Homo sapiens: one gene and its partners. The protein of the gene in region 1 purifies or fractionates together with the protein of each later gene. This does not show direct contact. Each region holds a gene or a part of one and is shown on either strand. Other genes may lie near its edges.

Region 1 (5,571 bases):
TATTTATATACTGAACAACTCTCCAATTTAATGTGTACAAGACACTGGTTTTTTAATATATTCACAGAGTTGTACAACCATCACCCCAATCAACTATATAACAATTCCATCACCCCAAAAAGAAACTGTACCCATTAGCCGTCACTCCCCATTTCCTCCTAATACCTGCCACCCGCCCCAGGCAACACTAATCTATTTACTGTCTCTATAGATTTGCCTATTATGGACATTTTGTATATACAGAATAATCCAATATGTGAACTTTTGACTGGCTTCTCTGACTTAGCAAAATATTTTCAAGATTCATCCATATATGGCTTGTATCAGCACTTCATTCCTTTTTATTGCCAAATATCCCATTCTACATTTTATTTCTCCATTTGTTGGTTGATAGACATTTGGGTTGTTGCTACTTTTTGGCTATTACGAATTGTGCTGCTATAATATTCATGCACAAGATTTTGTGTGGACGTATTTTCAATTCTCTTGGGTATATACCTAAGAGTAGAACTGCTGGTGACTCTATGTTTAACCTTTTGAGGTATCGCTAGATAATTTTCCAAAGCAGCCCATCATTTTACAATCCCATCAGCAGTCAAGTGGGTTGCAATTTCTCCACATTCTCATCAACACTTGTTGTTATCTGCCTTTTTCATGATAGCCACCGGGTGTGAAGTGCTATCTCATTGCGGTTTTCAGTCGCATTTCCCTGACAGCGAATGGTGCTGAACATCCCTTTTGTGTGCTTATTGAAGATTTGTATATCTTTTTGGAGAAATGTCTTCTCAGATCCTTTGCCCATTTTTTAACTGGGTTACTTGTTTTTTTGAGTTGTAACAGTTCTTTATATATTCTAAATGTCTATATCTTATTGAATATGATTTACAAACATTTACTACCATTTCATGGCTTGTCTTGGCATATTCTTGATGGTATTCTTTGTATCACAGAAGTTTTTAAATTTGATGAAGTCCAATTTTATCCAAGAAACCATTGCTTAACTCAAAAATTTACTCCTATATTTTCTTCTAAAAGTTTTACAGATTTAGCTCATGTGTTTAGTTCTGTGATCCATTTTGAGTTAATTTTTGTACACGGTGTGAAGAAAGGGTCGAAATTCACTCTTCTGCATGACAATATCCAGCATCATGTGTTGAGAAGATTATTCTTTTGCCCTTTTAACTGCGTTGGGACTCTTGTCCAAAATCAATAGTTTGTTTCTGAACTCTTAATCCTATTCTATCAATCTGTAAATGTCTATTCTTATGCCAGTACCAGATTGTCTTGATTATTATAGTTTTATGTTGCTCAATCGTTTACACTGCTTTTTTTTTTTTGAGACGGAGTTTCACTCTTGTTGCCCAGGCGGAGTGCAATGGCAAGATCTCGGCTCACTGCAACCTCTTCCTCCCAGGCCAGGTTCAAGCAATTCTCCCACCTCAGCCTCCTGAGTAGCTGGGATTAAAGGCATGTGCCACCACGCCCAGGTAATTTAGTATTTTAGTAGAGACAGGGTTTCACCATGTTGGCCAGGCTCGTCTCGAACTCCTGACCTCAGGTGATCTGTCCGCCTCAGCCTCCCAAAGTGCTGGGATTACAGGTATGAGACACTGCGTCCGGCGTTACATTACGTTTTAAAATAATTTTTATATAAATTCCACATGCCAATAGAAGATTTTTAAAAGATAAGATTTTTATCACTGTCTATCCAATTATATATTAGAAATTTTACATTCTCCAAGAAAAGGAGCATTTCCTCTTCAACATCCTGTTATGAAGACAGAGACTGAAGAAAACATTCCTCTCACTCATTGGTTTCACCTATGTCCCACATTCTCTTTTTTTTGAGACAGTCTCACTCTCACCCAGGCTGGAGTGCAGTGGCCCAATCTCGGCTCACTACAACCCTCACCCCTTTAGGTTCAAGCGATTCTTGTGCCTCAGCCTCCCAAATAGCTGGGATTACAGGCACATGCCACCACTCCTGGCTAATTTTTTTGTTGTTTGTTTGTTTGTTTGTTTGTTTAGCAGAGATGGGGTTTCACCATGTTGGCCAGTGGGTCTCAAACTCCTGACCTCAGGTGATCCACCCGCCTCAGCCTCCCAAAGTGCTAGGATTATAGGTGTGAGCCACCATGCCTGTCCCCACATTCTTGAACTACAGCTATTCACAATTGTATCTGTGGGCAAACGACCCCAAGGTTCAATAATTATTCATACTTTTCACTTCACATTATCTTAGAAAGTAAAGTGTTTGAAAAAAATTTATTTGTATACCAGTGCTTACTATATGAATGACATTAAAAATGGTTGTGCAACACTTTATATCTTGCAAAGCACTTAAACAAACATTACCTTATTTGAATTTCATAAACATCATGAGAAGTTGATGAGCAAGTATTATTTCCCCCCCAAGTAATTATGGCCTTAAGAATGCATGTGCGATTGCTAAGGGATACAGGCATAACTCTAAAATTACTGCTTCATAAAATAGTTCCAGTATATTCTTGTAAGATTTTATTTTACAGCAATAAATACAGAAATGCTAAAAACCACTGCTGAGCTTCTGTGGAAAGAATAACATACTGCTAGCAACTAATCAGCCTCTGGATTTCATATCACTAGAGATTATAATTATAATTATAATTCTAGCCAATGTCCCTGCTTGTTGATAGTTGCTCCCATTACCATCACATCATGCCTATCACAAAGGGCATTCTGTCCCTTAAGTACTTTTGAGTGAGGCCACAAAGTTTCTTTTTGATCTAGAGATGGGATTTTTTTCAAAAGATACTGATAACAAACTATAGGGGGGAGAAAAGCAAAAATAAATCAACTACTACATCCCACACACACCAGAAAAAAAGATTAAAATATGGCAAATGTAAGAACATAAAATATTTAACATAATAAGTCTAGCCAATTCAATTTCAGTTTAATTCAAATTCTGCACACCTATTTGGTACCAAGCACACAATGAATAAGACAGTATGGTGCTTATGTAAGTATAGACATACAGATCAATGGAACAGAATTGAGAATCTAGATATGAGCCTTCATATTTATGATCAAATTTACTTTTTAAAAAGGTGTCAAGGTATTTTATTAAGGATATAAGAGTGTTGTGCTGGGAGAAGTGTCTATGCATATGCCACAATTCACAAAAATTAACTCAAAATATGGATCACAGACTCTTAAAGGAAGAACTAAAACTATAAAGCCTCTAGAATAAATCATCATGACTTGTGTTAGGCAAAGATTTATTTAATGAACACCAAAAGTACAATCCATAAAGTCACAAACTAGACTTGATAACAATTTAAAACTTTTGTGCTTCAAAAGACACAATTAAAAAACCAAAAAGACATCCCCAAAATATGTACATCTATTTTGTATCAATAAAAAATTAAAAAGAAAAGGCAAGGCATAGCCTGGAAGAAAGTATTTGCAAATCATGTATCTGATAGAGGACTTGTTTTCAGACATATAAAGAAATCATACAAATCAATAAGAAAATACACAAAAATGAGCAAAAAATTTGAATAGATATTTCCAGAAGATATAAGAATGGCTGATAAGCATATGAAAAGATGTCTGAAATCACCAGTTATTAGGAACATGCAAATTAAAACTACAATCAAATACATTACATACCCACTAGAATGGCTATAATCAAAACAAGAGATAATATCAAGCGTTGGCAAGGATGCGTAGGAGCTAGAACTCTCATATATTGCTGGTGGGAGTGAAAAATGGTAGTCATTTTGAAAAACAATTTGACAGACTCTTTAAAAGTTAGACATAAATTCACCACACAACCCAGCAATTTCACTCCTAAGTAACCACCTACGAGAAATTAAAACATATCCACACAAAGACATACGTCAAATGTGCATAGCAAGCCTATAACCTGGTGAATAAACAACATTTATACAATGAAATACTATTCAGTGATACGGCTGAATTAACTACTGCCACATGCTACAACACGGATATACCTCAAAAACATTATGCTAAGTGAAAGAAGCCAAACACAAAGACTATACATTCTATGAGTCCATTATAGGTTACAAGAAACTGCAAATCTCTAGAGACAGAAAGTAGATCAGTGGTTGCCAGGGGCTGAAGGTGGGAGTAGGGATTGACTACAAATGGCTATGAGGGAATTTTCTGAGATTATGGAAATGTTCCAAAACTAGACTGTGTTTATGGCTGCACAACCATGAGTGAATTATATACTTGCAATGGGTGAATTTTATAGTATTTAAATTATAACTCAATACAGCTGTTTAAAAAAAAAACACACTTGATCCCACACCATTCTACTTAAAAACTAGAATATTACCTACAGACCTTATGGCCCATCTATATACTCTTCCCTTAGTCTCATCTTCGTGCCTCGACAAGGTAACCATTACCTCAACTTAGTGTTGATCATTTCCATGTTTTTGTTGTTTTACAGATGCATCACTAAATAATATAATTTCATTTTGTTTGGTTTCTTAACTTTTTATTATGAAAATTTTCATCCATATACTCTACATTTAGATTTAAGGATTTTCTACATTTAGCCCTCCTTTTTGGGCCTAGGTATTTTATAATAAAATGCAGTTATTATGATAGTTCATCTCGAAATTCTTTCACATGCAGCTATAAAAAATTGTCCAATTTAACCATATTATCATCATCATACCTAACAAAAATCATATTTGTTAACATCACCTTATTCCTACTTTATTATTACTATTATTATTTTGTAGACAGTTTTGCTCTAGGCACGTGCCATCACACCCGGCTAATTTTTCTATCTTTAGTAGAGACGGGGTTTCACCACATTGGCCAGGCTGGTCTCTGACCTCCTGGCCTCAAGTGATCCACCCGCCTCGGCCTCCCAAAGTGCTGGGATTACAGGCGTGAGCCACTGTGCCTGGTCTATACCTACTTTACATTAATTCAAGATGGATTTAAGACTTAAATGTAAGACCTAAAACTACAAGAATCCTAGAATAAAACCTAGGAAATACCAATGGGGACACTGGCCTTGGGAAAGAGTTTATGACCAACTCCTCAAAAGCAATTGCAGGTCAGGCACGGTGGCTCACGCCTGTAGTCCCAGCACTTTGGGAGGTCAAGGTAGGTGGATCACTTGAGCCCCGGAGTTCAAGACCAGCCTGGACAACATGGCGAAACCCTGTCTCTACCAAAAATACAAAAAACTAGCTGGGAGTGGTGGCATGTGCCTGTAGTCCCAGCTGCTGTGGTGGGAGGATTGCTTGAGCCTGGGAGGCAGAGGTTGCAGTAAGCTGAGACCGTGCCATTGCACTCCAGCCTGGGTGACAGAGCAAGACCCTGTCTCAAAAAAAAAAAAAGCCAATTGTAGCAAAAACAAAAACTGACAAACGGGACCTAGTTAAACTGAAAAGCTTCGGCACAGCAAAAGAAACTATCAATAAACAGAAACCCCCTTTTTTTTTTTTTTTTTTTTTTTTTTGAGACAGAGGCTGGCTCTGTTGCCAGGTTGGAGTGCAGCAGTGCGATCTCGACTCACTGCAACCTCCACCTCCCGGGTTC
Region 2 (5,770 bases), on another chromosome or scaffold:
GTGCTGTTTCTGTTTCTCTGAGACTGCTGGTAGGAGACCAGGAGTGACTAGGTGTGACCAGGCATGACGGCATGAGCAGGCGTTAAAGATTGGAGCGCTGCCTCATTTCAAGTCTCTTAAAGAAGATGAAGGTAACAGCTGCCCAATGAGGACGGAACCGCATTTGTGAATGGAAGCATTCATAGCTGGGTTTCCTGTCCTTTGTATTTTCTTATAGATCTGAAGTTGTAACCTCCACATAATATGAACTACTTCAACAGTTTCTATTTCTATTCTGTGTCCCGGGGGTGTGGGGGTGGTACTAGAGTGAAAGTATTTGGCAGCGCATGCAACATAAAAAAAAAAAAAAATCCCTTCCTTTGGCCGGCGTTCAACTTTTATAACATGTTTTTATTTTTACTTTTTTGTAGGGGGAAGACAGGGTTGCTCTGTCGTCCAGGCTGCAACGCAGTGGCGGGATCATAGCTCCCCGCACCCTCAAACTCCTGGGATCAAGCGATCCTCCCACCTCAGCTATAATGTATTTTTAAATTTGGAAATGCGTTCTCCTCTTCCTCCACCCAGCATGTATATTTTTACTCTCCTCTTATTCCCTCCAACCTTCACCCAAGTCTGTTTCCTGGCAATTTGAGAAGTGAGAAATGCCTGCGTGGGGGAAAAAGTGGAGGCACATGTTGTGTTGTAATTTTAACGGGGAAACATTGCCCAATGACAAAACCAGGGACCGTCTTGTGATGTTGCTTTCTGCCCACGCTACCTTTTCCTCTTCTGAGCCCGCTCTCGTCCCACCGAAGGCTGCAAGGCTGCCTCGCATCCAGAGGCTGTGACCTGCTTTAAATCAACAAAGCATGATGATCTTAGTTTGAAGAGTTGGGAGGACAACCATATGGATTGAGCTGTCATCTTTTGGTCCGTTGTAAATATCAAAAGCAGGCAGCCCATTCAATTCTCATTCTGATCTTTACGGATCTCTCCCACTGATGAGTTAGAAACCCTTCTAAACTCATGTTTTCCTTCCTTCAGCCAGCAAGGATTTATTGAGCACTTACTATTAATATATGCCAGGCACCCTTCCAAGCATGGGGAGTATGGCAGCGAGGAGTCCAAGCCTCTGCGCTATCAATTTTGCAACAGCACTGAACTGTCACCCAGGGCATTGCAGAGGTTACGTGAGGACAGGGTGGGGCTGTCTGCAGGACCCCAGCTAACTCCGGGTTCAAATTACCTGTGATTTGCTCTAAGTCCCACTGAGCCAAGTACAGCACTAGATAACAATGAAAACACTTTCAGGTGGGAGGATGATCTTTTCCTTCTGCTCCTTAACTTTTGCCCCATATCAGGAGGAGCTTCTGAGAAATGTGAGCTTTTCTGCTCACCCCCACGATACATTGTCTAACCACAAACCCTGGTTCGGATTTCATCTGTCCATGACACTGCGTGGTGCATGAATATATTCTTACTCTAAAGAAAAAAAAAAACAGCCAAAGGATATTTCAAAAATTATTTTCACACATGATTATCATACAGTATTACAATGTATTATGTGCAAAATTCCATTTAAAAAATCATTTACAAAAGTACAACACAGTATGTGCTGAGGGTTCTAGTTCAACAAAAGCCAAGGCTAAAAAAGGTACAAGGTACAAAGCCAACCAAATGAGATGACTATGCATCTTTACACAGTACAATAACATGTTTTTGTAACTACCTGTGTTACGTGGATACAAGACCCTCATAGTTTGTGCACCTGCAAACTGGTTTTATTTAACATAAGTTTAATTTCACTGCAGGTTCTGATAATGTAGATTGATTTTTTTGTGCATTTTCAAATTCTTCTCCATTATATAGCATCTTATTTAACTCAACAAAAGCCACATTATACATTACTTGGTTTCTGGTCCCAATAATTTGATGCTGTTAAGTTTTAATTTGTATGGAAAAGGGAGAAAAGTGTTCTTCTTGATTTTTATTTTCCTCAAGGGGCTTTCAAAATTGTTTCTACAAGCAAATCACACATGGAATAGATTTTGCCAAACCTCACTGCATATTTACAGTATTTTAAGCATAGGTGGTTCCTTCTATCTCTTTTTCTACATCTTTTGAAGAGCCTGAACCAGCAGACTGCACTCCTCAGTCCTTTGTTAGAGTTCATATTTCTCTCTCTACCTCTCTCTACATTCATTTCTCTCCTTATTCTCAGCATCATTTGTTTAAAAAACAAAACAGCAAAACACCACTAAACGTGAACAAGAGAACAGTACATCCGATTTCCAAAGGCATTCTGTGGCCAGTGTCAGGAATACGTTGCTTTAAGAAATCCAGCAGTCTCTCCCCACAAAGTTGCCAAAACATCCAGTTACAGAAGAGAGACTTTAAAAATGCAATACTCTCAAATCCAGCAAGAGATTTATTTTTGAATATTAAATGTTAAAATCACATGCATAATTATAGAATATTTTAAAGTTACAAAAATATTTTAAAACCAATCCTGACAGTTTACCTGCAACTGCTATAAAAATTTCTATGAAATATATAAAAACATGAAGGCTCTTTGTAAAAAAAAAAAAAAAAAAAAAAAAAAGGAAAAAGAAAGGAAGGAAGGCAGGGATGAAGCCATCCACAGGAGTGAGAATCACCTGACGCACTGCATCGCAAGCATCTGCTGTTGAATTCAAAAGAACTTGTATCTTAAGTGTTTCTTCTGCACATATACATACCTGTAAGCCAACCTAGAACCTGACTGGGGGTAGGTAGCAAACAATCTCAGGACACTTGAACCATCAGATGCAATTCTCCATTGCCAAAAGAGAATCCTACTGTTTCACAAACCTCAGCTACCTTGCGTGGCTAAAGTTGCCCTTGGCCGAGTTGGCCTGTGGATGGCTTAGTCACTACACTGAGGGGTCCCCGAGGAGGTGACTGCTTTTCAAGCTCAAGCATGTAGAAGCGGGAAGGCAAGGCTTCCAGCTCCCCTTTGGATGCACCACTGGGAAGTCCCGCCTGTCTTCTAGGAGGTGGTGAGGTCTTCTTCCCCGTTCTGGAAAATGATGCCATAAGGATCGTTCTTGATGCGTTTGTAGACAAAGTGGAAGATGTGGGGCTGTGGTCGGCTGTGCAGCTCCGCCTTGATTTTTTGAGGGTAAGTGTCCTCTGCCAGCTGCTGCCATGTCTCGTCAACGAAGAGAAAGAGGCTGTACTCCTCAGGGTCCCCCACCTTGAACTTCTCAGCGCAGATCTGACACACATCCTCAGTGGTGATGTAAGGTCTCACAAGGAGGGTCTTTCCTGTGCAACCACTGTTGACCTCCTGAAATGCAACTCGGAGGTAATTCTGCAGGTGGAAGAGGAATGTTGAGACAGTCAGAAGAGAAAACTAGATAGTGAGCATGATGGGGGACCAGGGGAGGGGGTAACTGTAAGCCATTTCCAGGCCCTTTCCTGTCATAATGTCCGATGTCAGGCCACGAGGCTTCGAATGGCAAGGAAAGAGGCTGATCTGACTTTGGACAGTGGCGAAGATGACTACATGATTCATTGCAACTGTAAGAAGCAGGAAGTCCATGCAGCCCTGGTTCTGATCTTTCCATTTCCCTCATAAGGTCTGGTTAAGAAACCCCTGCTTAAGAGTGTGAACCACATCCAATGCTGGGTTTATTCCCAGCTTGAAAACTAAACCAAATAGCACAAGAGTATGAAGGAAGTCAGCAGAAAGAGATTTAAAATATCTAGACACAAAAGCACGTACTGTGCTCACTTTTTGTTTTCTTCTTTTCATTTTAAGAGATGAGATCTCACTATATTCTCCAGGCTGGACTCATACCGCTGGGCTCAAGTGATCCTTCTGCCTCAGCCTCCTGAGTAGCTAGGTGTACAGGTGCATGCCACTGTACCTGGCTTGTGTTCACTTTTGACAAACTTTTTAAATAAATCCTAAGCAAGGGCAATCATTTAGGTTGAATCACACACACACAAAATGCGCTGACTTTTGACTATTTTTTATCTCCCCCAAATGGTGATTTCATGTAGTTCAATCTAATACAAGGCTCCTAGTGGCTCTGGGCACAATGTGGAAAAAGTCAGAAGGAGAAGAATGTTGATTTTGCCAAATACTTTGCAGATGGAGCTGATTACATGCAAGGTGGTGCTGCAGGGAATTAAACAAAGACGTTTGCAGGCTCAGGTGCTGCAATCATGCCAGGTACATGCTATCATGAAACATGTAAACCTGTGGCCTTACAAGATACAAAGCCCAGACCAGGCATAAAGAATCTTAAACTCACATCAGGCTCTCCTAGATTTTGTGACCCCAGATAACTTTGCTTCTGTTTCCTTAACAGTGGAGTTATCAGATGAAATCTAGAACAGCCAGTTAAATTTGAGTTTCAGCTAGAAAACAAATAGATTTTTTTCTGCTAAATCTGGCAACCCTGCTCAGCAGTGAAGGGAAGGAGGGCTCTCTGCCCAGGTGCCTGCAAGGTCACCACGAGGGTTTCCTGGGATAACAGAAGGGAAAGCTCTTGGGAAGGACAGTGAGCTCTGCACATGTAAGATATGTTTCATATCTGCTTCCAGTGGGGACTTTTGCTAGCCCAGTGACTTTGCAGGAGAGGTGAGCTAGTGGGAGGTGCCCAGATTGACAGTGACACTCTTTGAACCTTTTTTTTTAAGAGACAGGGTCTACATAATCCCTGTTTGACTAGTGCAGAAACTGAGGCACAGAGAGGCTACGTAACTTGCCCAAAGCCACACAGCTAGGACGTGGCAGATGCAGCCCCACCGCCTTTACCACCAAGACGTACTACCTCTTCCCATGTGAGAAGACCTCTGTGTCTGTGGCCTCTGATTTAGGGGTTCCAGATGGAGCTTTGGGTCTGAGGTTTTGCTTTGACCCCTGAGCCGAGTGCTGAACATTTCCTTCTTCGGTTACACTCTGAGAAGGCATGCACCTCCAAGGTGAGCAGGGTCAATGAGGGCAGGAGGGGACGGCTGCAGAAGAAGGCAGCTCTATGGTGTCTGAGGGTCTCCAGGTGAAGAGGTGGAGGAGGGTGTGTTGGCAGGTGGGGAAAGGAACAATGAACTTTTTTCACTTCCTCTGTTCTGCCCTAGGCAGCCCCTCCCTGGATGGCTATATGATGGCACCCCAGGGGTCTGCAGGCACTGAGTGGCACAGGGACCTTCTTAGTGCAACAGGGTGGGGAGAGTGCAGTGCGTGTATTCTCACTCTTTAGGTTTATGCGCTCCAGAAGGAATTTCTGAGCATACTGCAATCATGGAGAAGAATGAGCTGATCTTGGCTTTCAAAGATGGGCTTGCCTTTTTGTTTGTTTGTTTTTGATACAGGGTCTCATTCTGCTGCCCAGGCTGGAGTGCAGTGGTGTGATCATGGCTCACTGTAGCCTCAAACTCCTGGGCTCAACGGATCCTCCCACTTTAGCCTCCTGAGTAGCTGGGACTACAGGTGTGCACCACTACGCCTACCTAACTTGAAAATTTTTTGTTGTGGTTGTTTTGTCGAGATGGAGTCTCACTTTGTTGCCAAGGCTGGTCTCCAACTCCTGGCCTCAAGCGATCTTCCTGCCTTAGCCTCTAAGGTGCTGGGATTACAGGCATGAGCCACCTCATCTGACCCTCTATTTTCAGAGCTCTTATAAAAAAAAAAAATGGCCAGGCGCAGTGGCTCACGCCTGTAATCCCAGCACTTTGGGAAGCTGAGGCGGGTGGATCAGTTGAGGCCAGGAGTTTGAGTCCAGCCTGGCCACCACGGTGAAAT
Region 3 (6,157 bases), on another chromosome or scaffold:
CGTCGGCAATCGATTTTTTCTTAAAGGATTTTACTGCATGACTTATATCTCCATAAAAACTGACTTAAAATCCAGCCCCCTAAATAAGATGCAACTCCACTCTAATCTGGGTATAAATAGTTTTGGCCATGAATCTGGATGAGAATCCTCCCTGAAGAATTTGGTTAAAATATGTTCCAGATCAATTGCAGCAGTTCTACTTGGAGTCCATGAGTGGACTTAACAGAATCTGCCAGTCCTCTGAAACTGTGTAGTATTCTGTGTATATGTGCTATATCTTTTTCTATGGGAAGAGGGTCCACAGCTTTCATCAGGTTTTCAAAAGTACCCATATTCCTCAAAAAACGGACCCACTGGTCCAGAAAAAAAATGGTGCTTATGATTTTTATGAGATAATGATTATCAAGCAATGTTACACAGGACATGAGTTCCTCTAAAGTTTAATACTTGAGTGCTGTGGCCGGGCGCAGTGTCTCACACCTGTAATCTCAGCACTTCGGGAGCCCGAGGCAGGTGGATCACGAGGTCAACAGATCAAGACCATCCTGGCGCCAACATGGTAAAACCTCATCTCTACTAAAAATACAAAAATTAGCTGGGCGTGGTGGCATGTGCCTGTAGTTTCAGCTACTCAGGAGGCTGAGGCAGGAGAATCGCTTGAACCTGGGAGGTGGAGGTTGTTGTGAGATCATGCCACTGTACTCCAGCCTGGCGACAGCACAAGACTCTGTCTCAAAAAAAAAAAAAAAAAAAAAATTGGCTGTGTCAAATATTTCTAGTATTTATTTTTTTAAGACAATAGAAAAAGAATTGCTTTTAGAATGGTGTTTTTTTTTTTTTTTTGAGACAGAGTCTTGCTCTGTAGCCAGGCTGGAGTGCACTGGCGTGATGTCAGCTCACTGCAACCTCTGCCTCCCAGGTTCAAGAGATTCTCCTGCCTCAGCCTCCCGAGTAGCTGGGACTACAGGCCCACGCCACCATGCCCAGCTAAATTTTGTATTTTTAGTAGAGATGGGCTTTCACCACATTGGCCAGGATTGTCTGGATCTCTTGACCTTGTGATCCGCCCGCTTTGGCCTCCCAAAGTGCTGGGATTACAGGTGTGAGCCAGCCGCTTTTTTTTTTTTTTTTTAATCTTACCTATAGACTTGCATGATTCAAGATAAAATGCTTTTTAAAGGAGAAAAGGTACAGAAAATAATTTTAAATTCTGCCGGAAAGACTGGTATAATGTTCTAAAGTCACTCACTGGCCATAACCTATCTTTGCTCCTTAATTTCTCATTAATCCTAACATCACCCTTAGACACAGCCTGGTATCTCCAACGACACTCCTCTTAAATAAGCCTTGCCTAGACCTGCTTCTCAGCATCAACTGTTCTTTCTACCTACAATGCCCTCCTCTCCCATCCAAAGGATCTCTCTTTTAAGACCTAAATTGAGTTCTTCCAGTAAACTTTCCACAACAGTCACAGCCCATTGTTTTCTCTCCTCTCAACTGCCAATTTACTATCTGTACATCTCATTATTTGGTAGTGATCATATACTTGCCAACTAAACCTGAAGAACCCTGTCTTAGCCACTTCCCAACCCAATGCCCAGAAGAGTGCTTTCTAGAGTAGGTTCTCAAATATTAGGCAGTATAGCAGACATGAAGAATATACCTTAAGTCTTTCTCTTTCTATGTCTGGTTTGAGGAGCTTTCTCAGGAACCGGTTTTCCGGTGACTTTCTTTTTTCCCGTCCAGTCTTTGGACAAAGTATGGAGTTACAAACTTGAACTGTACTTTTATACTTAAACAAGGGCACATTCATTAAACTCTCTAAATTCTGAAATGGCCCAAAGTTTTCTCTGTGCTCTACGATATTGATGGACCTTCTTCCACGAAGCAATCGGAAAGCTTCAAGTTCTTTAGTAGATGCTGTATTCAACACATGCAAGATGGAAGCCTGCTGTTCTGAAGAGAAGAGCTTGTCAAGTGCATTTTCGGGCTCCTTTGCATTTTCATCACAAAAAGTAACATTGGGAGTAATTTTCTTAGGTGTAGTGGATTTTTTCCGACAGCAGAAATTATGTAAGGCCCAGTACAGGGATGACCTCGACGGGGTCAGAAAGCATCTCCACCTCTCTAAAAGGAAAATTTAGCAAAATATAAGTTGGATGTCCTACTTCCTTTGGGGTTAGTTGCAAGCTTGACTAGATCCTTTGCAAAGTCACAAATACTTTCCTGGAATTTAAGAACTAATAGAGGACAATATTAAATTGTCTTGGAGAATCATCTTTTTTTTTTTTTTTTGAGACGGAGTCTTGCTCTGTTGCCCAGGCTGGAGTGCAGTGGCCGATCTCGGCTCACTGCAAGCTCCGCCTCCCAGGTTCACGCCATTCTCCTGCCTCAGCCTCCCAGGTGGCTGGGACTACAGGCGCCTGCCACCACGCCCGGCTAATTTTTTGTATATTTAGTAGAGACGGGGTTTCACAGTGTTAGCCAGGATGGTCTCCATCTCCTGACCTCGTGATCCGCCCACCTCAGCCTCCCAAAGTGCTGGGATTACAGGCGTGAGCCACTGTGCCCGGCCCGAGAATCATCTTTAAAAGAGGATTAGTTTTTAAACTATATTATATAGAGTTTTAAATAGAGCTTTTGTTGTTTTCAAGTCACGAGAGATGTCTCCCGATATTTATGGATCAGTCCGAAGTTTTACTACCTAGAAAATTGTATTTTATACCCATCAGGAAGCAAGTAGTTGAAATAATTATTCCAACTGCTTAAAGTTTCTGATATTTTTAATTTAGAGGAATCTTTTTGTAACTAATATTTCCTGTTAAGGTTTGTCTTAGGCCGGGCGCGGTGACTCACGCTTATAATCCCAGCACTTTGGGAGGCCGAGGTGGGCGGATCACCTGAGGTCGGGAGTTCGAGACCAGCCTGACCAACATGGAGAAACCCTGTCTCTACTAATAATACAAAATTAGCCGGGCGTGGTGGCACATGCCTGTAATCCCAGCTACTCGGGAGGCTGAGGCAGGAGAATCGCTTGAGCCCGGAAGGCGGAGGTTGCGGTGAGCCGAGATCGCACCATTGCACTCCAGTCTCGGCAACAAGAGCGAAACTCCGTCTCAAAAAAAAAAAAAAAAGGGTTTTGTCTTCACTTCCATTTTCACATTTTAGTATCTCATCTGGTGGAACTAAATAAAATTAAATTTTGTACGTTTATAAGAAATGTTTCAGCTAAGTGATAGATTTAAGGGCAGTTTTACTTTCTTCCGTACACTTTTCAAGACTTCTACATGACGTTTTTGCAAGTATGAGAAACACCATACAATGCATAACTTTGTAAAACCAGTGGGAAGTCACTCTAACATCGCAGCCACAGGAAAGTAATGTGGCCAGAGGTAAGCAAGCGGCTGTGAGAATGTGAACCATCCGCCCACTCTGAGGAGCCACCCGTGGACCCTGAGGCCGGGGAAGCACAAATGTTCCGAAAACTGCCCCGTCAGCTAGGCTGGGGCCCCAAGAGAGGGGCCTGAACAAGGGACATGAGGAAGGAAACACTCTAGGACATGAGGGACATGAGGAAGGAAACACTCCAGGTTCCTCCAGAATACCTCCAGCCGTATTCCATTAGCCTCTAGGGTCAGAGGCTAATGACAGACGGGAAATCACCCCAGTGTTCCAAGCACCCTACCTCCCGCCGTATTCCATTAGCCTCTAGGGTCAGAGGCTAATGACAGACGGGAAATCACCCCAGTGTTCCAAGCACCCTACCTCCCGCCGTGAAGAGGACAGACCCGCTCATCTCCAAGTTGAATCAGTAGGTCCAGTCTTCCTCCATTGACTTCCGGTTCCTGCGTGCTGCGCCCAAAAGCGCTCGGCCTGCACTCGGCGGAAAGGTTGTTGTCCAAGCGGCGTTCCGGGGCAAGGCCCGAGGTGTGTCCCGCTGAGCAGTGGGTCGTCCGCGTCTGGGCTGCGGGCTTCCAGGCGGGCGCCTGCCGAGGCCCTGTCCCCGGATCCCGAGTCCCTGGCTGGCCCGCAGTCTTCTTCCACTGCACCGGGGAAACGTTCTTGCCCCTACCGACTCCTGAGAGCCGCTGGGCCGAATCTCCAGGAAGGCGATTCCGAGGCCAGTTTTAGTCTGTAGTGGGTAAAGTGCCTCCTTCGTGGAGACTCCCTGGGTTTCTCCTAGACACTTAGATTGAGGAGCTCCTGTTGGGGCCCAGCCTGTGGCGCCGGGAGCGGGATCAGGTAGGGGCAGCGTAGACAAGGTCCTCAAATAACCTTTTCACCAGGTAGACTGGAATAACGGGGAGAGATGCGAAGTGTTTGAGGAGCTCAGCGGGGAAACAGGGCAGGCAAGGGATTAGGTAAAGGCGAGGGAGGAGGAGATTGCGTTGGCGCTGGAGCGGTATTCCTCTTAGAAGGGATAAAGGGAGATGAATGTAGCGCCGAATTTAGTTGGTCCTTGAATAATGGGTGGAGCAGTTGAATACTCCACCAGATAGGAAGCCTGAAGTCCCCGAGGTTTATGATTTGCAGTCAGACTGGAGAGTGTTCCTAGAAAATTGGCCATATACTGTATAGCGAATGTGAGGCTGGATTGCAGGTGAAGAGCCTGGGAGCAATGAGAAGTCGCGAAGAGAGTGTATCTTCCCAGGTGAGAGGCAAGCGTAAGGAATTTTTTTTTTAACAGTCTTGCTCTGTCGCCCAGGTTGGAGTGCAGTGGTGCGATCTGGACTCACTGCAAACTCCGCCTCCCGATTTCAAGTGATTCTCGTGCCTCAGCCTCCCGAGTAGCTGAGATTACAGGCGAGCGCCACTACGCCCGGCTAATTTTTGTATTTTTAGTAGAGACAGGTGTCACCATGTTGGCCAGGCTGGTCTCGAACTCCTGACCTCAGGTGATCCGCCCGACTCGGCCTCCCAAAGTGCTGGGATTACAGGCGTGGGCCACTGCGCCTGGCCAACCGTAAGGAATTGAACCTAGGAGATGTAAGGAGAGTGGAAAGAAAAGAATTATTTCTGGAAGATGGGGAGCCAGTTTTGTGAAAAACGGGGAATTCAGGAGGGAGGGAAAGGTGATGAGTTTGCGTTTTTATGAGGCAGCAATGGGTTGATTGTTTGTGTCTGGAAGGCAGTGGGGATGTAGGGGAATCATAAGTATTAATAAAATGTGCTGGTCGGGAGCAGTGGCTCCCAAAGTGTAATTCCAGCACTTTGGGAGGCCGAGACGGGCGGATCGCTTGAGCTCTTGAGTTCCAGACCACCCTGGGCAACATGGCGAAACCCCGTCTCTACGAAAAAATTAGCCGGGTGTGGTGGAGCACGCCTGTTATCCCAGCTACTCAGGAGGCTGAGGTGGGAGAATCACCTGAGCCCGGGAGGTAGAGGTTGCAGTGAGTGGAGATCGTGTCACCACACTCCAGCGTGGGGGACAGAGCCAGACCTTGTCTCAAAAAAAGAAAAAAAATTGCTCATAGGAAGTCTAGAAACCTTGGCAGTTTCTGGGGAACTTAGGAATCTAACAAGAAATAACATCAACTTTTTTCTGCAAAATCCTCCAAATCAGGAGGAAATAATTTCCTCAACTGTAGGGCTTATTCAGTTTACTGAGATGTTATGATTGAATTGCATCCCTCAAAACAGATTTGTTGAAGTCCTAACCCCCAGTACCTTATTATTTCCAAATAAGGTCATTGTAGATGTAACTAATTAAAATGAGGACAGGAAGGCCGGCACGGTGGCTCACGCCTGTAATCCCAGCGCTTTGGGAGGCCGAGGAGGGGGGATTACGAGGTCAGGAGATCGAGACCATCCTGGATAACACGGTGAAACCCCGTCTCTACTAAAAAATACAAAAAATTAGCCGGGCGTGGTGGCGGGCGCCTGTAGTCCCAGCTACTCAGGAGGCTGAGGTAGGAGAATGGCGTGAACCCGGGAGGCAGAGCTTGCAGCGAGCTGAGATGGCACCACTGCACTCCAGCCTGGGCGACAGAGCGAGACTCTGTCTCAAAAAAATAAGTAAATAAATAAAATAAAATGAGGACACGCTGGACTGGGGCAGGGACTAATCCAACATGGCTGCTGTTCTTATGAGAAGATGACTCTGTGAATGCCATGTGAAGATGGAAGCGGAGATTGGAATGATGCTTTCTACAAACCC
Region 4 (5,571 bases), on another chromosome or scaffold:
TACTTTGCTAAGACTCTGGAGGAAGGTATTTGTATATTTTATTAATCTGAAGAAGTAGGAAAGGGGAAAGTCTGACATGTAGCTCTCGTTAAAGGTGGGTCCTCTGTATATTTGCCTAATATTTAGAAATTTACTCTCAGTAAAGTTGACTTATTGAAAATTGATAAAAAAATCTCTAAAAAAATTTTTTTAGAGAGACAGGGTCTTGCTCTGTCACCTAGACTGACTGGAGTGCAGTGGTGGGATCACAGCTCACTACAACCTCAAACTCCTGGATTCAAGTGATTCGCCCACCTCAGCCTCTTGAGTAGCTACTATAGGCACCTGCCACCCACACCTGGCTAATTTTTAAATTTTTTGTAGAGATGGGGTCTTGCTATGTTGCCCAGTCTGGTGTTGAAGTCCTGCCCTCAAGTGATCCTCCTGCCTTGGCCTCCCAAAGTGCTGGGATTTCAGATGTGAGCCCCCAACCCACCCTGATGAAAACTTGTTAAACCTTTTATTCCCTGTCTAGCTTTTAAACTCTTCTTAAGTCCTGGAAAACTTAAAAAAGGATTTTCTTTCATAGTCCAGAGTTATATTGGCACTCACCCATGCATAATTGTTTTGTCAAACCTTTTAGGGGAGAGGTGTTTTTAAAGAATTATGAAAATACTGACAAGGGACCAGCCCAATTATACCGGAGAGGTTTAGAGACATCCACAGAGGATGAGTCAAGAGTGTTGGATTGGGGGTTGGAAGACAAGATAGGTGGAGAGTCGAGCACTAAATGCAAATAGATGTGATGTAAATTATGATTTGTGCCTGAAAAATAGCTGAGAAATTCATTGTTGCTGTTGCATAGATTGTATAGGGACTGGGGTAGTTACAGATGGTGAGGGTGAATAGTTAGGCGGGGACCAAATTGTGAACTTGGTGGTGAATTTGGACTTGGACATATAAGGAGTACTCATGGAAGTTGTTAAGCAGGGAAGTGATATGGTCACATTTGTATTTAGGTGCATATTCCTGAAAACCATGTGGAGAGTGATTTCTAAGGAAACTGATGGTAAAGTTGTGTGGAGCTGGTTTATTAGACCAAGTGACCATTGTGTCATTGAACGTATAGAGAAGGGGGGCCAGATTCCAGAGATACTTGAGGTGGGATTGATAGGAATTTTGGGGAGGGAAATGTGGGAGAGGAAAAAATTAGGATAGATCTCAGATTTTTGGCTAGGATTTTTGTGGGAGGTGTGTTATGGTGGTGTTATAATTGAATATAGGAAGAGAAATTGGTTGAGGGCAAAGGTGTGGAGAAGGGAGGTAGAATAATATTTATGACTACAGTTGAGTGTTTGTTGTATGTCTAGTAATGTTCTATGTGCTTTTGATACATTGTTATTTTTATTATATTCCTGTGAGTCAGGTATTAGTATGTTTATTTTACAGAAAAAGAAACTGAGGCTCAGAGAAGGTCAGTGACTTTCTTTGGTTCATTAAAAAAATGGGTAATAATACTTTTTATAAATTCTAGGTAAAAAGAGCCTCTAATACTTACTTTTGCCCAATGACCATGTTTATGTATTTTTATTCAAATTTTATTTTTTCAGCTGATTTAGAAGAATACAAATCATGGCTGAAAATAGTGTATTAACATCCACTACTGGGAGGACTAGCTTGGCAGACTCTTCCATTTTTGATTCTAAAGTTACTGAGATTTCCAAGGAAAACTTACTTATTGGATCTACTTCATATGTAGAAGGTAAACCTGTTACCTGCTTTAAAACAATCAATTTCTATTTTAATTCTAAACTTATTAGTGACTTTCTTAAGATTTAATTTTAATACCAACTGTAATGCTAGAGCACAGGTATTAAGTAAATATTTGTTTACAGAATCCTTTTACACTATGTCATTTTTCTGATTATTATTTGGGTTATTTGTATGCTTTGCAGCTTTGAAAAGGGAGGCATCTTAATTTGGATATTCCTTTTTCTGTATGTGAGGGCGGTCTAGCTACAGCATTATTAGCTAGAAGTTATACAGTCATGACTGGTTAGGTGAAAGCTACTTTTTCCTTTACCACTTTATAAATGGGTTTTTCCTAAAATTATATGCACTGTTGAGGAGGATGACTATGTAAGATAGCGCATTCTCTGGCTAGGAGGAATGCTGATGTTTGTATACCCTGCTACAATATGGTTTCTCTTTCTCTAAAGTGATATATAGCCAGATATTTTTGTAATAAGTTGGGAGTTGAGTCCTATTAAATTTAGAGAAAGTTATGATTCCCTCAAAGATGTAATACATACTAGATATAGCCAAAAGAGCGATAAGGACCTACTGATTGTGATGTTAATACATGATAAACATTGAAACATTTTACATTTTAACAGAAGAGATGCCTCAGATTGAAACAAGAGTGATATTGGTTCAAGAAGCTGGAAAACAAGAAGAACTTATAAAAGCCTTAAAGGTACGGAGTTTTAGGTTTTAGTTTTTTTTGTAATGCAATTTTTCTTCCATCAGTGTGTAAATAGTTTCATAGCTTTCTTAACCTCATACTTAAGTCTCTTTTCCACAGACTATTAAAATAATGGAAGTCCCTGTTATAAAGATAAAAGAAAGTTGTCCTGGAAAATCGGATGAAAAATTAATAAAAAGTGTTATTAATATGGTAGGTCAAAGTAACTCATTGCATGTGGCATGCTGCACTTCCCTTGATTGTATTATTCTACTTTCTGGTGATTGGAATTAGGCACAAGGTGTATTGTGTGCAATCTGAAGCTTAATGAATAGAAACTGTTTTATACTTTTTAACTCCTTAGCTTCTTTTTTCTCATTCATTTTATATTTAGTCTAAATTCTTGCTGTATTTCCAAAATTATAAATCACGGTAATTTATAATCAGGGAATTTGCCTCAGCATACGAAATAATCTAATTCTGGAATCCAGCTGTTTTAGTTTGCTAGGGCTGCCATAACAAAATACCACATAGTTAATTGCTTAAACAGTAGAAATTTCTTTTCTCACAGTTCTGGAGGCTAGAAGTCCAAGATTAAGGTGTGTGTAGGTTTAGTTTCTCTTGAGGCCTCTCGCCTTGGCTTGCAGTGTCCTTTTGCTGTCCTCACATGGCCTTTCTTCTGTGTGTCCTTGCATCCCTGGTGTTTCCTCTTATTGGGACACCAGGTTGGATTAGGGCCCACCCCTATTATCTCATTTAACCTTAATTACCTCTTTAAAGTCCTTATCGCCAAATATAGTCACACTCTAAGGACTTCATTCTTCATTCTAGGTTAGGGCTTCAACATGAATTTTGGGGGTACATAATTTAGCACATCACACTAGCCTTGCAAATAAAATTCAAATAATTTACTGACCCATTTTGAGTTAAAAAAAAATTTTTTTTTTAATTTAACACGAGTTACAAGAGTTATATAGGTACTTTAGTATCTTCATTATTTTTCGTGGATGTATAAAGTGTTTACTGTAAGTAACTTGCCTTTTTATATCCTACATTTGCCATGCTGCAACTGCTACATATTGCACATCTTTCTCATATATCTTACATATCTGCTAAAATGATTATGCTGATTTTCCTTTCTGTAAGTATTAAGTGCTATAGTATTATTTTCCTATTTTTCTGAAGATAGTTAATTTGTACAATAAGAACTTTATGTATGGTATCATTTTCTTGGTCAGTAGTGGATATCTTTCTAATGCATCTTGATATCAAAATGCATGTACTTAAAAACTTTAGCATTCTAATTTTATGGAACTTATGCATACTTGATGATTTATGACTAATAAGTAATAAGTCAGAATTATGCCTTTATAATACTGATCTTTAAAATTTAAGAACTTAATTTGAATGGAGATATGTATATGTAAAAATGTAAGTACGTAAAGAAATATGGTTGTTCATTAAGTGTAATGCTGATTATTGTGTGATAGAAACTTATTTTCTACAAATATAAACATGTTAAAGTTGATATTGAATTGATTGTTAAGCCTTATTTAGAGAGACAGATGGATTATTTGATATATAAATAATTTTTATTTCTGCTAACTATATGATGAAAAGGACATTAAAGTGGGCTTTGTAAAGATGGAGTCAGTGGAAGAATTTGAAGGTTTGGATTCTCCGGAATTTGAAAATGTATTTGTAGTCACGGACTTTCAGGATTCTGTCTTTAATGACCTCTACAAGGCTGATTGTAGAGTTATTGGACCACCAGTTGTATTAAATTGTTCACAAAAAGGAGAGGTAAGCATATACATTTATTATGACTTTTCAAGTTAAAATTTTTATTAATGAATTTTAATTAGCAAAAAATTTATTTGGAAAAATCTCATTGATTGCTGAGAGCAAAATATTTAGAATAGGAATAATAGTGGCTATTCTAATGTGGTCCTTTAATTCCTCCATTTTAAACTTAGTGGTGAAAAGCTAAGGCCTTTGAAAGTTAAATAATGATAACTGTACATATGCATATACACAGACAAATACATAGTCCTTTTTTTTTTTTTTTTTTTGAGACGGAGTCTTGCTCTGTGCCCAGGCTGGAGTGCAGTGGCACGATCTCAGCTCACTGCAAGCTCCGCCTCCTGGGTTCACGCCATTCTCCTGCCTCAGCCTCCCCAGTAGCTGGGACTACAGGTGCCCGCCACCATGCTCAGCTACTTTGTTGTATTTTTAGTAGAGATGGCGTTTCACCATGTTAGCCAGGATGGTCTTGATCTCCTGACCTCGTGATCCACCCGCTTCGGACTCTCAAAGTTCTGGGATTACAGGCGTGAGCCACTGCGCCTGGCGTATACACTATCAATACCACAATGTCTTAGAGAAGATTACTTGCTTAAACTTGGGTTCCAGAAATTCATACATATACATAAACTTTTATTTTTCTCAACACAGAACAGATACCACGGTTCCATTTTTATCAGTTACTGTATAACTTAAAATTCAAAAATTATTTTAGCTTTTTGTATTTATTTATTTATTTAATAAATAAATACACGATCTCTGCTCACTGCAACCTCTGCTTTCCCGGGTTCAAGCGATTCTACTGCCTCAGCCTCTCAAGTAGCTGGGACTGCAGGTGCATGCCACCACGCCTGGCTAAGTTTTTTCTATTTTTAGTAGAGACAGGATTTCACCATGTTGGCCAGGCTGGTCTCGAACTCTTGACCTCACGTTATCTTCCTGCCTCTGCCTCCCAAAGTGTTGAGATTACAGGCATGAGCCACCGTGCCCCGCTTCTTTTTGTTTTTAAACAGCATTTCAATATGAGTCGTATGAGAGTTAGTCCCTATTTGGTTTTGTTGCTGTCTTGGCATTCTTAAGCTTGCCTTGTTTACTTAAAATTGCTTAGGTCTTTGTACTTCTATTGTTACACATGTTAGTAATAATAAGCACATGTTAACCTTTAATTCTCTTACATTTTGATTTGGAGTGGTTGGTTTCAAAACCCAAATAAACTTTAAAAGGCCAAATTTTGAAAAATAATCTTATATAATGATGAAAATCAAATTTATTCTTTTATTATTTTTAAACCGTTCTCTTTTATACACACACACACACACAGACAC

The links.
Region 2: the proteins of GKAP1 (region 1) and RIN2 purify together in Homo sapiens (affinity purification with mass spectrometry; one large-scale study listed by BioGRID and IntAct). This does not show direct contact.
Region 3: the proteins of GKAP1 (region 1) and TEFM purify together in Homo sapiens (affinity purification with mass spectrometry, with the first as the bait; one large-scale study listed by BioGRID). This does not show direct contact.
Region 4: the proteins of GKAP1 (region 1) and ECT2 purify together in Homo sapiens (affinity purification with mass spectrometry, with the first as the bait; one large-scale study listed by BioGRID). This does not show direct contact.

Annotation. Positions count from the first base shown.
Region 1 is NC_000009.12:83,769,238-83,774,808, forward strand, and holds part of GKAP1 (G kinase-anchoring protein 1), read right to left. Parts: intron 1-5,571. UniProt on the Homo sapiens protein: Regulates insulin-dependent IRS1 tyrosine phosphorylation in adipocytes by modulating the availability of IRS1 to IR tyrosine kinase. Its association with IRS1 is required for insulin-induced translocation of SLC2A4 to the cell membrane.
Region 2 is NC_000020.11:19,998,174-20,003,943, reverse strand, and holds the end of RIN2 (ras and Rab interactor 2), read right to left. Parts: intron 3,332-5,770; coding exon 3,008-3,331; 3' UTR 1,488-3,007; downstream 1-1,487. UniProt on the Homo sapiens protein: Ras effector protein. May function as an upstream activator and/or downstream effector for RAB5B in endocytic pathway. May function as a guanine nucleotide exchange (GEF) of RAB5B, required for activating the RAB5 proteins by exchanging bound GDP for free GTP.
Region 3 is NC_000017.11:30,902,403-30,908,559, forward strand, and holds the start of TEFM (transcription elongation factor, mitochondrial), read right to left. Parts: upstream 3,837-6,157; 5' UTR 3,797-3,836; coding exon 3,766-3,796; intron 2,128-3,765; coding exon 1,664-2,127; intron 1-1,663. UniProt on the Homo sapiens protein: Transcription elongation factor which increases mitochondrial RNA polymerase processivity. Regulates transcription of the mitochondrial genome, including genes important for the oxidative phosphorylation machinery.
Region 4 is NC_000003.12:172,752,920-172,758,490, forward strand, and holds part of ECT2 (protein ECT2), read left to right. Parts: intron 1-1,589; 5' UTR 1,590-1,611; coding exon 1,612-1,741; intron 1,742-2,375; coding exon 2,376-2,455; intron 2,456-2,563; coding exon 2,564-2,656; intron 2,657-4,063; coding exon 4,064-4,246; intron 4,247-5,571. UniProt on the Homo sapiens protein: Guanine nucleotide exchange factor (GEF) that catalyzes the exchange of GDP for GTP. Promotes guanine nucleotide exchange on the Rho family members of small GTPases, like RHOA, RHOC, RAC1 and CDC42.